Linked DNA regions of Homo sapiens. The protein of the gene in region 1 interacts with the protein of each later gene in a pairwise test. Each region holds a gene or a part of one and is shown in the gene's direction. Other genes may lie near its edges.

The links. The genes of interacting proteins can lie anywhere in the genome.
Region 2: the proteins of MIPOL1 (region 1) and PAX6 interact in binary tests that used the Homo sapiens proteins (3 or more experiments, as listed by UniProt).
Region 3: the proteins of MIPOL1 (region 1) and SSX3 interact in binary tests that used the Homo sapiens proteins (3 or more experiments, as listed by UniProt).
Region 4: the proteins of MIPOL1 (region 1) and FBF1 interact in binary tests that used the Homo sapiens proteins (3 or more experiments, as listed by UniProt).

Annotation. Positions count from the first base shown.
Region 1 is NC_000014.9:37,494,284-37,499,009, forward strand, and holds part of MIPOL1 (mirror-image polydactyly gene 1 protein), read left to right. Parts: intron 1-4,726.
Region 2 is NC_000011.10:31,803,927-31,808,652, reverse strand, and holds part of PAX6 (paired box protein Pax-6), read left to right. Parts: intron 1-1,030; exon of another isoform or gene 1,031-1,363; intron 1,364-1,727; 5' UTR 1,728-1,755; coding exon of another isoform or gene 1,756-1,804; intron 1,805-2,190; coding exon of another isoform or gene 2,191-2,241; coding exon 2,242-2,251; intron 2,252-2,651; exon of another isoform or gene 2,652-3,264; intron 3,265-3,611; exon of another isoform or gene 3,612-3,795; intron 3,796-4,593; exon of another isoform or gene 4,594-4,726. UniProt on the Homo sapiens protein: Transcription factor with important functions in the development of the eye, nose, central nervous system and pancreas. Required for the differentiation of pancreatic islet alpha cells.
Region 3 is NC_000023.11:48,353,008-48,358,532, reverse strand, and holds the start of SSX3 (protein SSX3), read left to right. Parts: upstream 1-1,829; 5' UTR 1,830-1,899; intron 1,900-3,263; 5' UTR 3,264-3,283; coding exon 3,284-3,352; intron 3,353-3,786; coding exon 3,787-3,901; intron 3,902-4,438; coding exon 4,439-4,534; intron 4,535-5,525. UniProt on the Homo sapiens protein: Could act as a modulator of transcription.
Region 4 is NC_000017.11:75,919,647-75,924,372, reverse strand, and holds part of FBF1 (fas-binding factor 1), read left to right. Parts: intron 1-731; coding exon 732-1,187; intron 1,188-2,326; coding exon 2,327-2,428; intron 2,429-2,812; coding exon 2,813-2,901; intron 2,902-3,070; coding exon 3,071-3,129; intron 3,130-3,943; coding exon 3,944-4,099; intron 4,100-4,265; coding exon 4,266-4,366; intron 4,367-4,498; coding exon 4,499-4,705; intron 4,706-4,726. UniProt on the Homo sapiens protein: Keratin-binding protein required for epithelial cell polarization. Involved in apical junction complex (AJC) assembly via its interaction with PARD3. Required for ciliogenesis.

The DNA of each region.
Region 1 (4,726 bases):
GGAAAAAAACTACAAATTACAAGTTCTGAGAAGGAAGAGTAGGATCTATGAGACAGACTAACAAAGAGGAAAATCAAGATTTAGATTGAAGACCCACGTAGGTGTATCTAAGAAAGTGATATTTTTGCTTTGTCTTACTGGATAAGTAAGACTTTGTCAGGTAGAAGCATGGGTGGAAAGGCATTCCAAACAAATACCTTCAGCAGAAAAAACTTGACACGCTTGAGAATCTGAATGCCTAGCTAAAAGGTGAGGAAGGAGGTAGAGAGGTCAGTGATGCAGGGCTTTATAGACCACAGCAAGTATAGAAGAGGTTTCCAGTGCAGACATAAAGACTGTAGGTTCAAATTCTGGCTCTGCTACATGTATTAAATTACTTATCTCTGTTTCCATTTGTATCAGTAAAAAAAGGAATATTAATAAGACTTCTCATGCAAGTTGTGACATTTAGTGAGTTAACATATAGCATTTATTATTTTTAAAGACTGTTTTCTGAATGCAAGGACATGCTATTGCAGGTTTTTAAGTGACATTGTCTACTTCCATCTTTTTAAAAAGATCATGTCCATTGCTTGGGAAAGCCTTGATGGTAATTAACAGGTTTCCAAGGTATTTTGAATGCTAAGCAGCTTTTGAACTTGCGGGTACAATCCAAACATGTCCATCTGAGAGAAAAATCAAAATCAGGTATAAATTTGCCCCCTAAAAATTAAATGATAGAAGACTAGAAAGTGAGGAGTGATTAGGAAATTAAATCAGGATGCTCATAATTTTCATAATGGTGAGACTTTTAAAACTTAATCATTGATTCTTTTTTTTTCTAGGTAATTTTTCTTTTTTTTTTTTTTAATATTTTTTTTATTATACTTTAAGTTTTAGGGTACATGGCACATTGTGCAGGTTAGTTACATATGTATACATGTGCCATGCTGGTGCGCTGCACCCACTAACTCGTCATCTAGCATTAGGTATATCTCCCAATGCTATCCCTCCCCCCTCCCCCCACCCCACCACAGTCCCCAGAGTGTGATGTTCCCCTTCCTGTGTCCATGTGATCTCATTGTTCAATTCCCACCTATGAGTGAGACTATGCGGTGTTTGGTTTTTTGTTCTTGCGATAGTTTACTGAGAATGATGATTTCCAATTTCATCCATGTCCCTACAAAGGACATGAACTCATCCTTTTTTATGGCTGCATAGTATCCCATGGTGTATATGTGCCACATTTTCTTAATCCAGTCTATCATTGTTGGACATTTGGGTTGGTTCCAAGTCTTTGCTATTGTGAATAGTGCCACAATAAACATACGTGTGCATGTGTCTTTATAGCAGCATGATTTATAGTCCTTTGGGTATATACCCAGTAATGGGATGGCTGGGTCAAATGGTATTTCTAGTTCTAGATCCCTGAGGAATCGCCACACTGTCTTCCACAATGGTTGAACTAGTTTACAGTCCCACCAACAGTGTAAAAGTGTTCCTATTTCTCCACATCCTCTCCAGCACCTGTTTCCTAACTTTTTAATGATTGCCATTCTAACTGGTGTGAGATGGTATCTCATTGTGGTTTTGATTTGCATTTCTCTGATGGCCAGTGATGATGAGCATTTTTTCATGTGTTTTTTGGCTGCATAAATGTCTTCTTTTGAGAAGTGTCTGTTCATGTCCTTCGCCCACTTTTTGATGGGGTTGTTTGTTTTTTTCTTGTAAATTTGTTTGAGTTCATTGTAGATTCTGGATATTAGCCCTTTGTCAGATGAGTAGGTTGTGAAAATTTTATCCCATTTTGTAGGTTGCCTGTTCACTCTGATGGTAGTTTCTTTTGCTGTGCAGAAGCTCTTTAATTAGGTATTGTTGGGACGTATTTCAAAATAATAAGAGCTATCTATGACAAACCCACAGCCAATATCATACTGAATGGGCAAAAACTGGAAGCATTCCCTTTGAAAACTGGCACAAGACAGGGATGCCCTCTCTCACCACTCCTATTCAACATAGTGTTGGAAGTTCTGGCCAGGGCAATTAGGCAGAAGAAGGAAATAAAGGGTATTCAATTAGGAAAAGAGGAAGTCAAATTGTCCCTGTTTGCAGACGACATGATTGTATATCTAGAAAACCCCATTGTCTCAGCCCAAAACCTCCTTAAGCTGATAAGCAACTTCAGCAAAGTCTCAGGATACAAAATCAATGTACAAAAATCACAAGCATTCTTATACACCAATAACAGACAAACAGAGAGCCAAATCATGAGTGAACTCCCATTCACAATTGCTTCAAAGAGAATAAAATACCTAGGAATCCAACTTACAAGGGATGTGAAGGACCTCTTCAAGGAGAACTACAAACCACTGCTCAATGAAATAAAAGAGGATACAAACAAATGGAAGAACATTCCATGCTCATGGGTAGGAATAATCAATATCGTGAAAATGGCCATACTGCCCAAGGTAATTTACAGATTCAATGCCATCCCCATCAAGCTACCAATGACTTTCTTCACAGAATTGGAAAAAACTACTTTAAAGTTCGTATGGAACCAAAAAAGAGTCTGCATCGCCAAGTCAATCCTAAGCCAAAAGAACAAAGCTGGAGGCATCACACTACCTGACTTCAAACTATACTACAAGGCTACAGTAACCAAAACAGCATGGTACTGGTACCAAAACAGAGATATAGATCAATGGAACAGAACAGAGCCCTCAGAAATAACACCGCATAGATCTGATCTTTGACAAACCTGAGAAAAACAGGCAATGGGGAAAGGATTCCCTATTTAATAAATGGTGCTGGGAAAACTGGCTAGCCATATGTAGAAAGCTGAAACTGGATCCCTTCCTTACACCTTATACAAAAATCAATTCAAGATGGATTAAAGACTTAAACGGTAGACCTAAAACCATAAAAACCCTAGAAGAAAACCTAGGCATCACCATTCAGGACATAGGCATGGGCAAGGACTTCATGTCTAAAACACCAAAAGCAATGGCAACAAAAGACAAAATTGACAAATGGGATCTAATCATTGATTCTTAATATGTAATTGGTTACGGTATACTGGTTACTGCTTTAGGCATGATAGGCAAATGCTGAATTCCCAAACGAAGCTGTCTCACTGAGTTTTAAATTAGGCCATATATGTAAAGTTAAAATATAAGGGAATGGAGTAGGCTAAGATTTTTTAAACAGTTTACAAAAAGCATTGCCATTAAAGAAACAATGATAAATTGAACTTTATTTAAATTGAGAACTTACCTTCATCAAAAGACAGCATTAAGAGTCAGGCATGGTGGCATATGCCCATAGTCCGAGCTACTCAGCAGGCTGAGGCAGGAGGACTGTTTGAGCCCAGGAGTTCAAGGTCAGCCTGGAAAACATAGTGAGAACTTGTCTCAACCAATCAATAATATACACATACATAAGACAATACGAAGAGAATGAAACATCACTGCATCCATATTACAATAACTAAAGTTAAAAGCATTTGACAGTGCCATTCTGAGGGAGGATATAAAGCAATTGAAACTCATATTTTGCTGATGGGAGTACAAATTGGTACAACTAATTTGGAAGACTATTAGCAGCATCTAAATCTAAATCAGCATCTATTATCATTGTACTAAATCTGAAAATAATGCATACCCTTTGGAGAAATTCTACTTTACACATGAATACCTAGGTCCATCAAAAGACATGTACAGGAATATCCATAGCAACAACTGTGGACAGTTAAATAAGTTACGGCATATGTATATAACAGAATATTTTATAGCAATAAAAAGCAATGAATTATATGCAACAGCAAGGTGAACTTCACTTACCAATTGTTGAGGAAAATAAGCCAGACAAAAAGTTTAAAAATAGGCAATTTACATTTTGATAAAGGTTGGATTAGTACTTACCTTTTGGGGAGGGGAAAAAATGGGAGGGAACACTGGGGGGTCTTCTAGATTTCTGCATTTGTTCTGTATTTTGTTCTTCACATTTTTTCAAGCTGAATACTTTGTATATATGCACTTTGTGTAATTTAAAACGTAATTAACAATTAAAATATAACTAATGTTTTAAATATAAAGAACATAAACAAGTACCTTTTTTAAGGTTTAGCTTTTAGTTTGTTTCTTCTTTTCTTTCTTTCTTTCTTGCATCTTTCATGGAGATAAAGAGGGTGAGCTGAAGAAAATTGGAACTTGGAACAGACAAGAATGCAGAAAGTGAGAGGACACAGAAAAAATAGTAAAATGGGCAAGAGACAGCCTTTAAGCATATGGGTTGGTAGAAAAATCTGAGAAGAAATGAAGTAGGGATAGTTAGATTAATAACAATGTGCAAACCATGAAAAAAGGTATTTTTTGCACTCTACAAATGTGGCACTACACACTATTCTAATTTTCTGTGTAGTAACCAGTTGACCAGCGCTTAGTAACAGTCCGTATTCTTAGGGGTTTGAATCCTGAAGTGGTTTCATTTGGTATGCTGACTGTCCTTGTTTCATATCCATCCTAGTTCTATGGGACGCCTTCTCCAAAATAAGCATACTGTAAAGGCTTATAGATAACTTAAACTAAAAGAGGAAATTTATAATTACTTTGAACAGTTTTAAAGAAAGTATCAGGCTAGATATTAGGACAATGCCAAAGTTCACTAACTAGCTTTTTGCAGGTTTAATAATGATATTGCTTTCCTTCCCATTATCAATCTATATTATATAGTTAAGTTGTTTTACTTC
Region 2 (4,726 bases), on another chromosome or scaffold:
TTTAAAAAAAAATGGTATCAAGAAGTTACAAGCCAGGATGGGAGCATTCTGTTGTGATTGTGCACAGCGTGGGTTACAAAGTGGAGTTCTGGAAGTTTTACCCCTCCTAGGGGAATTCCATTCCCCATCTCCCCACCTACTACTCCTTTGCAGCTTCAGGGTCCTGCATTTGTTGGGGTGGGGTATTTTGCATTAGAGTTGGAGATTTTGCCTATCCAGGGCATGGCTATGGGTGCCGGGACTGAGAGACAGGAAGGAAGCATTGGAGAGCCAACCTAGATAAGGGTAACTAGTAACCCTCTGCTGTGGCCAGTATTTACCCAATGCTGAGAAAAAGTCCTCATTTTCGGTTTATTTTTATGGATTTAAGCTGTCTACCAAGTAGTTAAAAAGTAGACCAGGAATGGCCTTGTAGAGTAAAATGTGCTTCTTGAAATTCTTTGCTTGCAGGCAGGCAGATCAATAATCACCATAGGTAAAACAGAAAAAATAATGCATTTAAAAAAAAACAGAGAGAAATGATGCTGTGACTGTTTTGTTATTTTACCTCTTTTTGGGGGGCAGACCTCTTGAATGGGCTCTTTATTGTAACTCTCTCTTCCCAATTGAGCTCCCCACGGTGCCGTTGTATCTTTTTACAGCCCCTAACAACTCACACCAGTAACACAATTACCTCCAGATATTTACAACAAGAAATTACTTTTCTATTTTCTCCACTCACCCAAAAGACTTTTTTTTTTTTTCCTTTGGGAAAGGTAGGGAGGTGTTCGTACGGGAGCAGCCTCGGGGACCCCTGCACTGGGTCAGGGCTTATGAAGCTAGAAGCGTCCCTCTGTTCCCTTTGTGAGTTGGTGGGTTGTTGGTACATTTGGTTGGAAGCTGTGTTGCTGGTTAGGGAGACTCGGTTTTGCTCCTTGGGTTCGAGGAAAGCTGGAGAATAGAAGCCATTGTTTGCCGTCTGTCGGCTTTGTCGACCACGCTCACCCCCTCCTGTTCGTACTTTTTAAAGCAGTGAGGCGAGGTAGACAGGGTGTGTCACAGTACAGTTAAAGGGGTGAAGATCTAAACGCCAAAAGAGAAGTTAATCACAATAAGTGAGGTTTGGGATAAAAAGTTGGGCTTGCCCCTTTCAAAGTCCCAGAAAGCTGGGAGGTAGATGGAGAGGGGGCCATTGGGAAGTTTTTTTGGTGTAGGGAGAGGAGTAGAAGATAAAGGGTAAGCAGAGTGTTGGGTTCTGGGGGTCTTGTGAAGTTCCTTAAGGAAGGAGGGAGTGTGGCCCTGCAGCCCTCCCAAACTGCTCCAGCCTATGCTCTCCGGCACCAGGAAGTTCCAAGGTTCCCTTCCCCTGGTCTCCAAACTTCAGGTATTCCTCTCCCCTCACACCCCTTCAACCTCAGCTCTTGGCCTCTACTCCTTACTCCACTGTTCCTCCTGTTTCCCCCTTCCCCTTTTCCTGGTTCTTTATATTTTTGCAAAGTGGGATCCGAACTTGCTAGATTTTCCAATTCTCCCAAGCCAGACCAGAGCAGCCTCTTTTAAAGGATGGAGACTTCTGTGGCAGATGCCGCTGAAAATGTGGGTGTAATGCTGGGACTTAGAGTTTGATGACAGTTTGACTGAGCCCTAGATGCATGTGTTTTTCCTGAGAGTGAGGCTCAGAGAGCCCATGGACGTATGCTGTTGAACCACAGCTTGATATACCTTTTTCTCCTTCTGTTTTGTCTTAGGGGGAAGACTTTAACTAGGGGCGCGCAGATGTGTGAGGCCTTTTATTGTGAGAGTGGACAGACATCCGAGATTTCAGGCAAGTTCTGTGGTGGCTGCTTTGGGCTCAAAACCCACAAACAGTCAAAACAAACTATTTCAGTATGCTTCTTCACTATAGTTCAGATAGAAGAAAATAAATCAAAATTGGGGCATCGCTTCTACTGATTAAAGGGTTAACTGCTAAAGAATGTAGGGGAAACAGATTGGGGATATTCCAGTACTTTGTTTCAAGCCCCAAAGGGTAGATTTTGTATGCACTGCAGGGCAGAGCTGAGTGACCCTCAGATCGCCCCAAGAGGTTGAGTGGATCAATTCCTAAAGAACGGAGATTCTCCTGTCCTAGCCCCAGGTCCACCTCGGTTGGGAGTTCAGGCCTACCTGATGCAGCTGCCCGAGGATTAACTCCTATTTTCTTGCTAACAGAGCCCCATATTCGAGCCCCGTGGAATCCCGCGGCCCCCAGCCAGAGCCAGCATGCAGAACAGTAAGTGCCTCTGGTCTTTCTGGGACTTCGGGCTCGGGGTGCGCGGACCCGAGGGTCAGGGGAGGACACAGGGACTCGCGACGCCCGCGCTGGCCCGGCCGCCGACCGACTGAGGCCCGGGGACCTGCGGCGGCTGCTCCCCGCTCCGCGCCCGGCAGCCCGGGAGGGGAGGGCGTTTGCTTGGCTCTTCTCGATACTGGAGAAGCAGGGGCTGGGCCCTTAAGAACAGCCCGCCCGAGTTTTCGAAGCTGCGGTAGAGAAACCCCATCCCCCCCAAATCCTGTAACTCACACCCCCTCTCGCCCCTGCCCGGGCTCTGACCCCGGAGAGAGGGGCTGGGCTGATCAGGGCGGGGCGAAGTCTTCTCCTAGTTGAGCGAGAAGGAGGCCCCTTTGGGCTTAGCCAAGACTGAAAGTCTCCACCAACCCGGCGGGGTTGGGGGCTTCTCTCCCCAAGTCACTCTCAGGGCAGCTCCTCCCCTCCTCACCCCACTACGGGCCTAGAAGGGATGGGGAGAGGAGCCCCCAGGCCTGCAGCAGGGTAGGGGTGGTAAACTCGCTGTTACAGGGCGCGGGAGAGAGCACGGTTTACTGGGTCTGGTAAGGAGGTGCCCAGGAATTGGAAAATCCCTGCCCTGGCAACTGCAATTGCTTGGGTCCTGATAGTCCCAGGCCCAGAGCGCTTTTGATACTTATGGCCCTTGTACCTCCCTGCTTTCCTCTGCCCAGACCCCGTGGGGTCCCACCCACCTTCCTGTTCGTGGTGGGTGCTGGTACGCGGCAGGGCTAGTCTAGAGCTCCGACCTGGGAGCCTGGAGGCCCAGCGAAACCAGGCCCGGTTTGAGGTTACGGTTGAGGCACACGGCGTCGGGGCTCAACTGAACTCAAAGTGTGGAAAGGCCCGGGTCTTCCAGCAGCCTGCCCTGGCCGAACCACACAGGCTTAAGGAGGGTCCCCAGCACCTTATCCATCTGTTTTGGAAACGCCGGTCGCCCCCTGGTGCTTCCGGGGCTGGTAAGCGCGTAGCTGAGGAAAGGGCACAAAGGTGGCGAGCTTTGCGGGAGTAGTTGTGCAGAACCTGCCGGACCCCAGGGCTTGGCCGGTAGGCTCGCCTTCGGCGGCTGGGCTCTCCCCTTGGAGCTCAGACTCCCCAGCCGCAGGCTGTCTCTCGGGCGGGCCCCAGCCAGGGCGCGCAGCCCTGAGCGTTTGTCGCTGCGGCCCGGCTGGCAGGCCCCGAGGGGCGCGGGGTCGCGGGCCGGCCGGCAGGGCTTTGTGCCGCTCGTTCCCGGGTGTGCGCGAGGCGCGGAGCATCCAAATTGACACCATATGTTTTCCTATTAGTTGCTTCGCGGTCGAGTTCTAGGCGCATAATCATCGCCAGTGGGCGAGAGCGCCAGCAGTCCCTAGGGAAGGGACACAATGATTGAGGCTTAACCTCTGAAGGGGAATTTGGAGCTGCGCTTTCTCTCTGCCATTTCGATGCTGGGAGTGGCGCTCTGGCCCTGGCGTCTCCTGGGCAAGCACCAGCCGGCGGTATCTGCGGAGGTGGCTGGCACGTTGTTATTTTTTGAAATGAGTGAGGAGGGAGGTCTAGATTTAGGCGGCCTTACGCGCCCGCCTTGGCATTAGCAGACTGGGAATTGCCGTGGCTATGCCCGAAGTTTGGAAAGTCTCTCTCGGTCTCTTTCTGGGACAGCCTTTCTTTTTCCGGGAAGCTTCCTGTGCCTAGAGGTGGGGCTCTGTAGCTGGAGGGGTAGATGGAACTTGCGAAGCAAAGGAAGGCAATAAAAGGAAGTTAGGAGAAACCGGAAACGTGGGCCAGGCCTTGCTCTGTTGGAGAAGCGGTGTCCCCGCAAAGTCCCTGCTTGCGCTGGTCCCGGCCGGAGCCCAGATCCCCCAAACGCCTGTCACTTCTCATCGAGTTGAGGCTCCGGCCCCCACCCGCGCCTTGGTGAGGGCCCCCCCTCAGCCCCAAGCCTTCGGCTACCCTGAAAACGCGGCTCCCCTCGAAGGGGAAACAAGTGCAGTTCAATCTCGTCTGAGTGATCTACAAATAAGGACGGAAAGGGTCGTTTTATCACGGTCCCGTTTGTCGTGACGATGCAATTTCCCGGAGCGGAGCACTGTCACAAAGTGACAAGGCTGCCACAAGCGCCCCGACTGATCTTTTCAATTAGCCTTCCATGCATGATCCGGAGCGACTTCCGCCTATTTCCAGAAATTAAGCTCAAACTTGACGTGCAGCTAGTTTTATTTTAAAGACAAATGTCAGAGAGGCTCATCATATTTTCCCCCCTCTTCTATATTTGGAGCTTATTTATTGCTAAGAAGCTCAGGCTCCTGGCGTCAATTTATCAGTAGGCTCCAAGGAGAAGAGAGGAGAGGAGAGGAGAGCTGAACAGGGAGCCACGTCTTTTCCTGGGAGGGCTGCTATCTAAGTCGGGGCTGCAGGTTGGAGATTTTTAAGGAAGTGGAA
Region 3 (5,525 bases), on another chromosome or scaffold:
TTTTTTTTTTTTTTTCAGTCTTGCTCTGTCGCTCAAGCTGGAGTGCAGTGGTGTGATCTCAGCTCAATGCAACCTCGGCTTCCCAGGTTCAAATCATTGAGTGAGCCCAGGAGGTCAAGACCAACCTGGGAAACATAGCAAAAGGCAGGGTAGTGCATGCCTGTAGTCCCAAGGCCGAGGCGGGAGAATCACTTGAGTCCCGGAGGTAGAGACCAGCCTGGACAACATAGCGAAACTGTCTCTAGTAGAAAAATTAAAAATATTAGTGGGGGCGGGGTGGTGTGAACCTGTAGTCCCGAGGCCAAGGCAGGACGATTGCTTGAGCCTAGGAGGTTGAGGCCAGCCTGGCCAACATAGTGAAACCCCATTTCTACTAACAACAAGAACAACAAAAAAATAGCGTGGGTGGGGTGGCTCACTCCTGTAGTTTTGAGGCCAAGGTGGGAGGATTGCTTGAGCCCAGGAGGTTGATACCAGCCTGGCCAACAAAGCGATAGCCTGCCTCTCCTAAAATAAATAAATAAATAAATAAATAAATAAATGAAAATAAAAATGAGCAGGGCAGAATGGCACACGCCTATAGTCCTGAGGCCAAGATGAAAGCATCATCTGAGCCTAAGAGATTGAGGCCAGCCTGGGCAACATATCGAAACCTGGTTTCTACTAAAACGAAACAAAACAAAACAAAAAATAGCTTGGGCAGGGTGGTGCGTGGCTGCGGTCCTGAGGCAGGAGGATCCCTTGAGCCCAGGAGCTTGATGCCGGCCTGGCCAACATAGGGAAACATGGTTTCTACTAAAAAAAAAAAAAAAAAAAAAAAAAAAATCGTAGGCAGGGTAGTGCATGCCTGTAGTCTCGAGGCCATGGTGGAAGAATGCCTTGAGCCCAGGACGATGAGACCAACCTGGCCAATGAGACCAGCCTGGCCAACATAGCAAAACCTGGTTTCTACTTAAAAAAAAAAAAAAAAAAAAAAGCGTAGGCAGGGTGGTGAATGCCTGTAGTCCCGAGGCCGAGGTGGGAGGATCGCTTGAGCCCAGGACGTCAAGACCAGCCTGGCCAACACAGCAAAACCTTCTCTATTAAAAAATCAAAAAATAAAAAATATTAGTGGGGGTGGGGTGGTTTGCGCCTGTAGTCCCGAGACAGAGGCGGGAGGATTGGCCAAGGCAGATGTAACCAATACCACAATCACATCCCATAAGTAAATACATTTTCCTCTCTCCAGGGCTACAGGTAAAGGATGGTAATTCTGCACACCACACTTAGATTCCCTTTCAAAAATGTAAGCAGAGGTTGGAGGGCCTTGGACTGTTTTTTCAGTGGCAACAGATATAGAAGCCACTGAAGAATGAACTCCACGACTAATTATAGCAAACCTCCGCAAATGTGCTAGTTTGGAAAACATTGTGGCTTTCAAGTAGAAAAATCACAGATTGACTATTTTTTTCTTCCCACAGTTCAGACTAGAATCCAGATTTTTAACCCAAGATCCAGGAACAGTCTTCAGAGAGATCAAAATCTGACGGCGCCTGAGGACCACCCACTTTTTCGCAGTGGCGACAAGGTGTGGCTGGAGGAGGAGACATTATTCTGCAATGTCGCTGCCCAAGGATGATGGACCAATCAGGGCAGTTAGTGAACTCCATCTGGCCAATTAGAAGTCAGAACAGTAGGCGGAACAAGCGAAGCGGATGTGGCTTCTATCAGTCCCGGCTCCAGGGACACAACCTTCTCAAAGTGGGGGTGGAGACTCTAATTTTCCCGCCTAAAGCATCCCCTGGGATTCGCTACTTTAAGTTCAGAGTACGCATGCTCTGATTTTCTCTCTCTTTCGATTCTTCCATACTCAAGAGTACGCACGGTCTGATTTTCTCTTTGGATTCTTCCAAAATCAGAGTAAGAATACACTGATTTTCTTTTTCCATTCTTCCTACCCCTCCCCTCCTCCGTGGTGCATTTGCTATCTAGTTTTAATAAGGAGTGTATATGAGGCAGGCCGCCATCTTAAATCTTTCCTGTCAGTTTCTAACCGCCATCTCAAATCTTTCCTGTCAGTTTCTAACTTTTTCAGGTATGGGATTTTTCCTAGGAACTCTGTAGTAACTTAAGAAATTTGGGCCTGGGGTGGTGGCTTACACTTGTAATCCCTGCACTTTTGGAAGCCACAGCTGGTGGATTGCCTGAACCCAAGAGGCGGAGGTTGCAGTGAGCCATGATCACGCCAGTGCACTCCCGACTGGGCAACAGAGCGAGACCCTGTCTGAAAAAAAAAATCACTCAAATCTTTCCTGCTGGGCTCAAGTGATCTTCTCACCTAGGCCTTGGGACTACAGGCGCGCACCACCCCGCTTCTGCTAAATTTTGTTTGTTTGTTTTTTTTAGTAGAGATGGTTTTGCTACGTTTGTGAGCCTGGTCTCAAGCTCCTGGGCTAAGGCGATCCGCCCACCTTGGCCTTCCAAAGTGCTGGGATGGTACAGGCCTGCTCCACCAACCCCAGCTAACTTTTTGTTTATTTTGTAGACGGGGGTTTTGCTGTGTTTCCCAGCCGGGTCTCGACCTCCTGGGCTCAAGTGACCTGCACGCCTCGGCCTCCCAAAGTGCTGGGATTACAGGCCTGAGCCACTGCGCCTGGCTGATTGCTGCAACTTGAAATGCCCCACATTCTCTCTAAGTGATGGCGGGCTCTTGTAGTCTCAGAAATTCTAGCTCTCTTCGTTCTAATAACTTACAAATCACCCAGTAATAGCCTCTGAACACATTCATATTAGCGATGCTCATTTCTCTTCAGCAGAACAGAACCCCCCATCCCTCTGCCTGATCAGATCCATCACCAAAGAGACCACGTTATCTCTGGGACTAACTTCCCTTCCTTTATTTATTGAGCGGGGGTGTCAGCATGCCCCACTGAATAAAATTACACAGTCATGTCCCTGCCTCCCCAACAAGGGTCCATACATCTTTCAGGGGAAGCCTAGCTCCAGGGAAATTACTAACAACATTAGCCAACCCCCTCCCAAAGACTCAAGGCTGCTTTGCCCATAGGAAACCTGTCATCCCCTATCAATACTTCTCCCAGAGACCCCTGGTTCCTGGTTTTCGTCTGATTTCTCCCCATATCCTTACTCAGGGACAGATAAGCCCCGGATGGAGAAATGCAGCACCTGATTCCAGGTGACTGAGTGGCCGGCCTTCACTGATTTCTCCCTCCACAAGACCAAAGGTCCTGCGGCTGGAAAGTCTCAATCTGTTTCTCTTGCAGGTCAGACTACTCCCTGTGCCATGAACGGAGATGACACCTTTGCAAGGAGACCCACGGTTGGTGCTCAAATACCAGAGAAGATACAAAAGGTGAGGTGACCTAGAGGGAGCAGAGTAGTGACCCAGGGGACAGTGTGGGGTGACCCGGTTTCTGAGGAGGGGAGGACAGAGATACTGGAGACAAGGAGCAGGGTCTCAGGGGAGATCTGGACCCTTGGGAGCCTCCCACCCTCACTCTGTCATCACCTAGCATCCCTGGAGACAAGTCTGTGACCTTGCACTACATTTGGTGACTCTCAGTCCATTCTGGAAGGTGGGAGGAGAGCCAGCCAGCAGCATTAAAGCCCGACAGTGTGGCAGGGGTGAAGCTAGGAAGGTCCCTCATGTTCTGTCAGTTAGCCGTGGCATCAACCAGGAAGGATTATCCCCACTTCCCAGATCCAGCACACAGGAAGCGACTCCAGCTGAATGGCAGACATGCCTAGCTGAGTCCCTGCCATAATTCCTTTTTTTTTTTTTTGTAGGCCTTCGATGATATTGCCAAATACTTCTCTAAGGAAGAGTGGGAAAAGATGAAAGTCTCGGAGAAAATCGTCTATGTGTATATGAAGAGAAAGTATGAGGCCATGACTAAACTAGGTAACAGAAAGTTCTAGGTACAGACAAGTCTGGGGACACATGAGCATCCCTTTTCCTGCTTTGGCTATTTCTTAGGCTGCAGAAAGTACCTCACATTTTCCTTTTGTGTAGGGAAAAATCGCAAGGCAGCTTCTGGGTGTTCTGCTCTTCTATATCCTGTCAGGGCTGAGGGCAGTGACTGGCCACAGTGGAGCTCATACCTGGATCCTGCACGTTTCTCTCTCTTAGGCTTCTGTTCTGATGAGCCCAACTGTCTCTGTGGCATCCCGGCAACCATCCTACCCCCACCCCACACACACCCACTCTACCTTCTCTCGGCTTGTCTCTTTCTTTTTTTTTTTTTTTTGTTTGAGTCAGTCTGAATCTGTCACCTAGGCTAGAGTGCAGTAGTGCAATCATAGCTTACTGCAGCCTTGAATTCCTGGCCTCAAGCAATCCTCCAGCCTTAGCCTCCCAAAGTGTTGGTACTACAGACATGAGCCACCGTACCAGGCCCAAGCTTGTCTCTTAAGGAATAAACATTTTGCTTCTTTCTAGGTTTCAAGGCCATCCTCCCATCTTTCATGCGTAATAAACGGGTCACAGACTTCCAGGGGAATGATTTTGATAATGACCCTAACCGTGGGAATCAGGGTGAGTAGATGGGAAGGGGCTGGAAAGGGTCTCCTCAAGCCCAATTGCTTTTCAGCTCAGCTACCTGGGAAAGAGCCTCAGGCATTTGTTCCCTCATACACATCGGGGCAGAGTGAAAAAAAAAATTGCATGCAGAAAGTTAACTACAGAGGTCATTCATATAAAATTTTAAAACATGCAAAAGAAGAATATATATTTTTATGGATAATAAGTAAATGGTAAATGTATACAAACATGAATGTGAATAAAAAGCCATCAAACTAAGGTGACTGGCTGTAAGTGGAGGAGGGAGGGAGGGCAGGGATTGCTGAGTGCTGCACAGACAGCTTCAGCTGTGACTTGTTGATAGTGTGTTTTGTTTGTTTTTGTTTTTGAGATGGAGTTTCACTCTTCTCGGCCAGGGTGGAGTGCAATAAGGCAATCTCAGCTCACTCCAACTTTCACCTCCTGGGTTCAAGTGATTCTTCTGCCTCAGCCTCCCGAGTAGCTGGGGTTACACGCACGTGCCCCCACACTCAGCTCATTTTTTAATTTATGGTAGAGACGGGGTTTCACCATGTTGGCCAGGCTGGTCTCAAACTTCCTGACCTCAGGTGATCCACCCGCCTCAGCCTTCCAAACTGCTGGGATTACAAGTGTGAGCTACCACGCCCGGCCTGTTTGCAGTTTTTCTAATATTCTGAATAAATAAATCAGACCTAACTTAGCTGTGGGGTAATGTTGAGATCCGACTGGACTCAATATTATTCCCCATACTTTTCTGTGTGTTTGAAATATTTCTTTTTTAAATGACATGTTGTTCTTCCTAAGCACTGTTAATGTATCAAAGGACAGTTAAGAAAATGTTACAAGTGAAAAAAAAAAAAAAGAAAGAAAGTGTTAAAACTGTAGATCCGCCAAAAACTTCCAGAGGTTGTTTCATTAACAGCATGTAGGTATTGGATAGGTATCTTAGGAGTGAGGTTGATGAACACATTATGTAATAAAGATC
Region 4 (4,726 bases), on another chromosome or scaffold:
TCTAAGCACATCGGCATTACTTCCCATACCCAGTACGTTCTTAACCCTGGGAACCTGCTGCCACTGGTCAGTGACAGATGAAGGCCACGGCCGAACAAATGAAGTAACTGTTGTTGGAAAACCTGGAAACCACTTGATCCAACTTATTATTATTTTTTTTAGACAGAGTCTCACTCTGTCGCCCAGGCTGGAGTGCAGTGGCATGATCTCGGCTTACCACAACCTCTGCCTCCCGGGTTCAAGCAATTCTCATGCCTCAGCCTCCCAAGTAGCTGGGATTACAGGCGCCCACCACCACACCTGACTAATTTTTTTGTGTTTTTAGTAGAGATGGGGTTTCACATGTTGGCCAGGCTGGTCTTGAACTCCTGGCCTTAAGCGATCTGCCCACCCTGGCCTCCCAAAGATCTGGGATTACAGACATGAGCCACCGTGCTCGGCCTGATTTTTCTTTAGACCTGTGTGCCCATGGCTGTCATTTGATCCTGTTCCTGTTCTCTGTGGGTAGAACTGTCCCTGGTTCATGTGATGGAAGTCAAGGTCTCTGTACTTCGTGGTGTTCTACAGACAGCACGTGGCCTGCCACCTGAGCCGGTCCAGGAGCCACTGCTCACTGGGCCTCAGCTGACTGTGCAGGGTCCCTGGGCATCGTGACGCCCAGCTGCAGGCTGCTAGGGGGCCACTGGGACTGGCTGTTTCCCCTGCCTGACACCCTCCTTTCTGTCTTGAAGTAGGTTCTTCGCAGACAGTGGCGCAGACCCCAAGGGAGAACCAGGCTCCAAACAGAGCCCTCCAATGGCTTCCAGCCCCATCCAGCCCAGGAAGGGAGGAGCTGACTGGTTGGGCCTCAAGGACGAGGACTTGGACCTGTTCCCTGCCTCACCCACCAGAGAGGCCCATCGGGAAAGTTCAGTGCCTGTCACGCCCTCAGTGCCTCCTCCTGCGAGCCAGCACTCCACGCCAGCTGGGCTGCCCCCCTCCAGGGCAAAGCCACCAACTGAAGGTGCAGGGTCCCCTGCCAAAGCCAGCCAGGCTTCCAAGCTGCGAGCCTCCAAGGAGGAGAAAGAGGACTGGCTGAGCCATGCCCTGTCTCGGAAGAAGTCCCAAGGCCTGGCCAGAGAGCAGCATGCTGGGACCTCTGAGGGCCTGCATTTGGCGGGGACAGCGGGCCATCCCCCTTCTGGCAGGTACTGACTTAGGCTGCTGTGGCTAGTAGGGGGAGGACTGGCTGGGGACTTGAGGAGCCCCTTTGCCCCTTCACCTGTTGCAGCCTCAGTCAGCAGTTGGGGAACAAGGCAGGGCGCCGTGGCCACAGAGGCCGCTTCTTGGCTTTGCTACTCTGCCTTTTAGGCACTGCAGAGAGAGCCTCTGGCTCCCAGGCTTGCCCCAGGGACATACCCAAGAAGGAGGGCTGTTGACATTCATGCCCTGACCGCCATGGGGACAGGTGCTAACTTGATCGAGGAGAAGACAGAGGGTCCCTGAGGTGGCAGACACACCGCTGCCCTGTCACAGCGCCCTCAGGCTGGAAGCCCCGGCATCCAAACAGCCGGTGCTTCTGCCGACTCCACTGAAGCGAGTATGGCGTGTGTGAGCTGAGATGTCCCTGTGCTCTTTGAGAGTGTTAGAGGAGACATAGTGGCCGAGAGGCGCCTCTTGGAGAAGCCCTTATCCGTGGGGCAGGATAGCGAGTGACCTCTGAAGGCAGGAAGGCACAAGGGGCCAGCAGGCTGGGGGAGTCCAGAGGAAGTGGTGAGATGTGCTGTGGCCAGAGCCCAGGGGAGTGAACTGGGCAATTTGTGACAGCCCAGGGACATCACCCTGTCCTGGGGTTGATGACAGGAGGGCAGTTTTGACTTTGACCTGAGGCCGAGGGGAAAGCTCAGGCCAAAACAGAAAAGAGCCTGTCTCTTCACTGACCCGTGAGCCGAGAAAGAGGTGGAAATAATGGGAAAGGGAGCCAGCCAGATTTGGTAGACTGAGCAGAATCCTAATCTAGAGCTGAGCCAAGTTAAGTGGACTGGAACAGGGCTCTGAACTTGAACTTGACTCCAGTGTCTATAACATTTCCGTTGTCACTGCTTGGACAGTGTCCATTCACTGCACCACTGTGGACATTGAGGCAGGAAGGGGGTACTGGAAGGGAAGAGATGCCCAGAAATCCCAGGAGCTCAGACGTGGGAGGAGAATGCCCCAAGACGGGATGGTGGAAGCAGGAGGAAGGGGGGCCACGAGCTTCACGTGTGAAGCCCGTCCTGGGCCCTGTCTTCATCCAGCCTGACCTGGGCCTTCTGTCACCTTCACCTTGAACGCTGCCTTTCCTCAGCCAACCTCTCACCAGCACACAAGGGCTTGAGCACGCAGCTGCTGGAGGGAGTTCTGGAACAACTGCACGAGAAAGACCGTGTGTCAGGCCTGGTGTCTCGGGGTAGGCCTGGGCTGCGGGCTGAGTGGGAATGAGAGCATGGTGGGCAGCACAGGCCTCTGTCCTGAGAGAGGGACACAGAGGCTGTTCACCCTGCCCCTGCCCCGTCCCCGTGTCCCACACAGAGGCTGCCCACCCTGCTCCGTCCCTGTGCCCTACACAGAGGCTGCCCACCCTGCCCCATCCCCGTGTCCCACCTAGAGGCTGCCCACCCTGCCCCGTCCCCGTGTCCCAGCAGAGGCTGCCCACCCTGCCCCATCCCCGTGTCCCACGTAGAGGCTGCCCACCCTGCCCCGTCCCCATGTCCCACCTAGAGGCTGCCCACCCTGCCCCGTCCCCGTGTCCCACACAGAGGCTGCTCACCATGCCCCATCCCTGTGTCCTCAGGTCCCCTGTGACTCAGAACCATGCCGCCTCAGCACTCCCTACAGGTTCCCCAAAGAGGGGAACAGCCCCTGGAGACCTCTCAGCCACTGGTTTGTTTTTTGTTTGCTGCTTCATTTGGGAGTTTAACCCTGGGTGAGGAAGAGGTGCTTTGAGCTTCCTTTGGGGTCCCTGGGACATGAGTTACACCAGCCCCTCCTGGACACTCGCAGGCCCAGTGCCCTGGGCCTCCTGTTCATTTCTCTGTTGTTGATGTTTCAGAGCCTGCCACGTGTTTCCCGAGCACCCAGAAACCCACAGAGCCTTCCGTGCCCGTCCAGGTAGGGGTGTGGGCAGACAGGTCTAGCTCAGGGCCTAGGGAGCAATTCTCCATGCCCAGGGGCAATACCCACAGTTTGACCTGACGACCTGCCAGGAAAAATGTGTCAAACATACCAAATGTGACGTCAGCCAGCTCCCCGGGCACCCCCCACTAGAACTTGCCTGAATTTCTAGCCTCGCTGCTCCTGGGCAGAGCTGGGTGTTAATTTGCCTACATCAGTGGGGAGTTTAAGGAGGCAGCCAGGCCGGGGAGCTGGGATGCTGCAGTCAGAAAGCAGGGCCGCAGGGTCCTGTTCTGTCAAGAAAGCCTCCTCCACCCTTGCCATCCTCCCACCACACCTCTGCCTCTGTTTCCCATGTGTGGCAGTCACCTGTGACACCTGGGCCTGGGAGGTGTGCCCCCCCCCCCCCCAGGAGTGTGTCCCTGGGAGATGGTGGGTAGGGGACAGCTCGTGGGAACCAGATTAGTGTCAACATGTGGGCTTCAGGCCTGACAGGAAAAGCCAGCATCAGCTTTTGTCATAGCGAAGACTCTGCTGGGGTTCAGCCATTTGTCTGGGAAGCCGGAGACCATGCTGGGGAGGAAGCTGTTCCGGAGGGTGGAGGGAGACATGCTCCTGACCAGATCTGCAAGGGGAGGTACACTGGGGACTGCTTAGCCGCAGTGACTGTTACTTTCCAAGGCCTTGGCCCCATCTGCAGCCACAGATCAGATGCAGGGAGGTCCAGTGAGCAGTGGGCCAGGAGGTAGCTGATCTCAGCTGGGCCCCTGTCCCCTCCCTAACTAGAAACACCTCTCTTCCTCTCCTCCAGCCCCTGCTCCCAGAGTCCCTGGCCCGGAGCCTGCTGCCGAGCACAGAATACCAGAAGCAGCTCCTGGCAGCACAGGTGCAACTTCAGTGCAGCCCCGCTGAGCTCCAGGCCGAGCTGCTGCATAGCCAGGCCCGGCTGGCAGAGCTGGAGGCCCAGGTGAGGGGCAGCGGGGCCGTTGGTGCTGGTGGCAGGGTTGCGACAGGAGGGGACACTGAGAGTGGCTGGAAGCTTCCCCAGGAGGGAGGAAGGGCTGTTGGCACAGGGCAGCGTGGAGTACAGCCACCTCCCCTCCCTGGTTGCTGGCCCTCCTGCTGTCTCCCAGGTGCGGAAGCTGGAGCTAGAACGGGCCCAGCATGAGCTGCTGCTGGGGAGTCTGCAGCAGCAGCACCAGGCAGACCTGGAGCTCATCGAGAGTGCACACAGGTACCCTGGCGCTGGCCCCAGCTCTGCCTTGGATCTCACACTGACCCCAAAGGCCACCCAGTGTGCCTGGAGAGGCCTTTAGGCGGCAGCCCTCTGCCTTCCTTGCGCCATGGCTGGGTGTTCTGTTGGCAGAAGCCGCATCAAGGTGCTAGAAACATCGTACCAGCAACGGGAGGAGCGGCTCCGGAGAGAGAACGAAGAGCTGTCAGCTCGGTATCTGTCGCAGTGCCAGGAGGCCGAACAGGCCCGTGCTGAGCTTACGGCCCAGCACCAGCGGCGCTTGGCGGCCATAGCGCAGGAGAAGGACCAGGAAATGGAGCGGCTCCGGGAGCTGCAGCGGTGAGGCCCAGGGACAGGCAG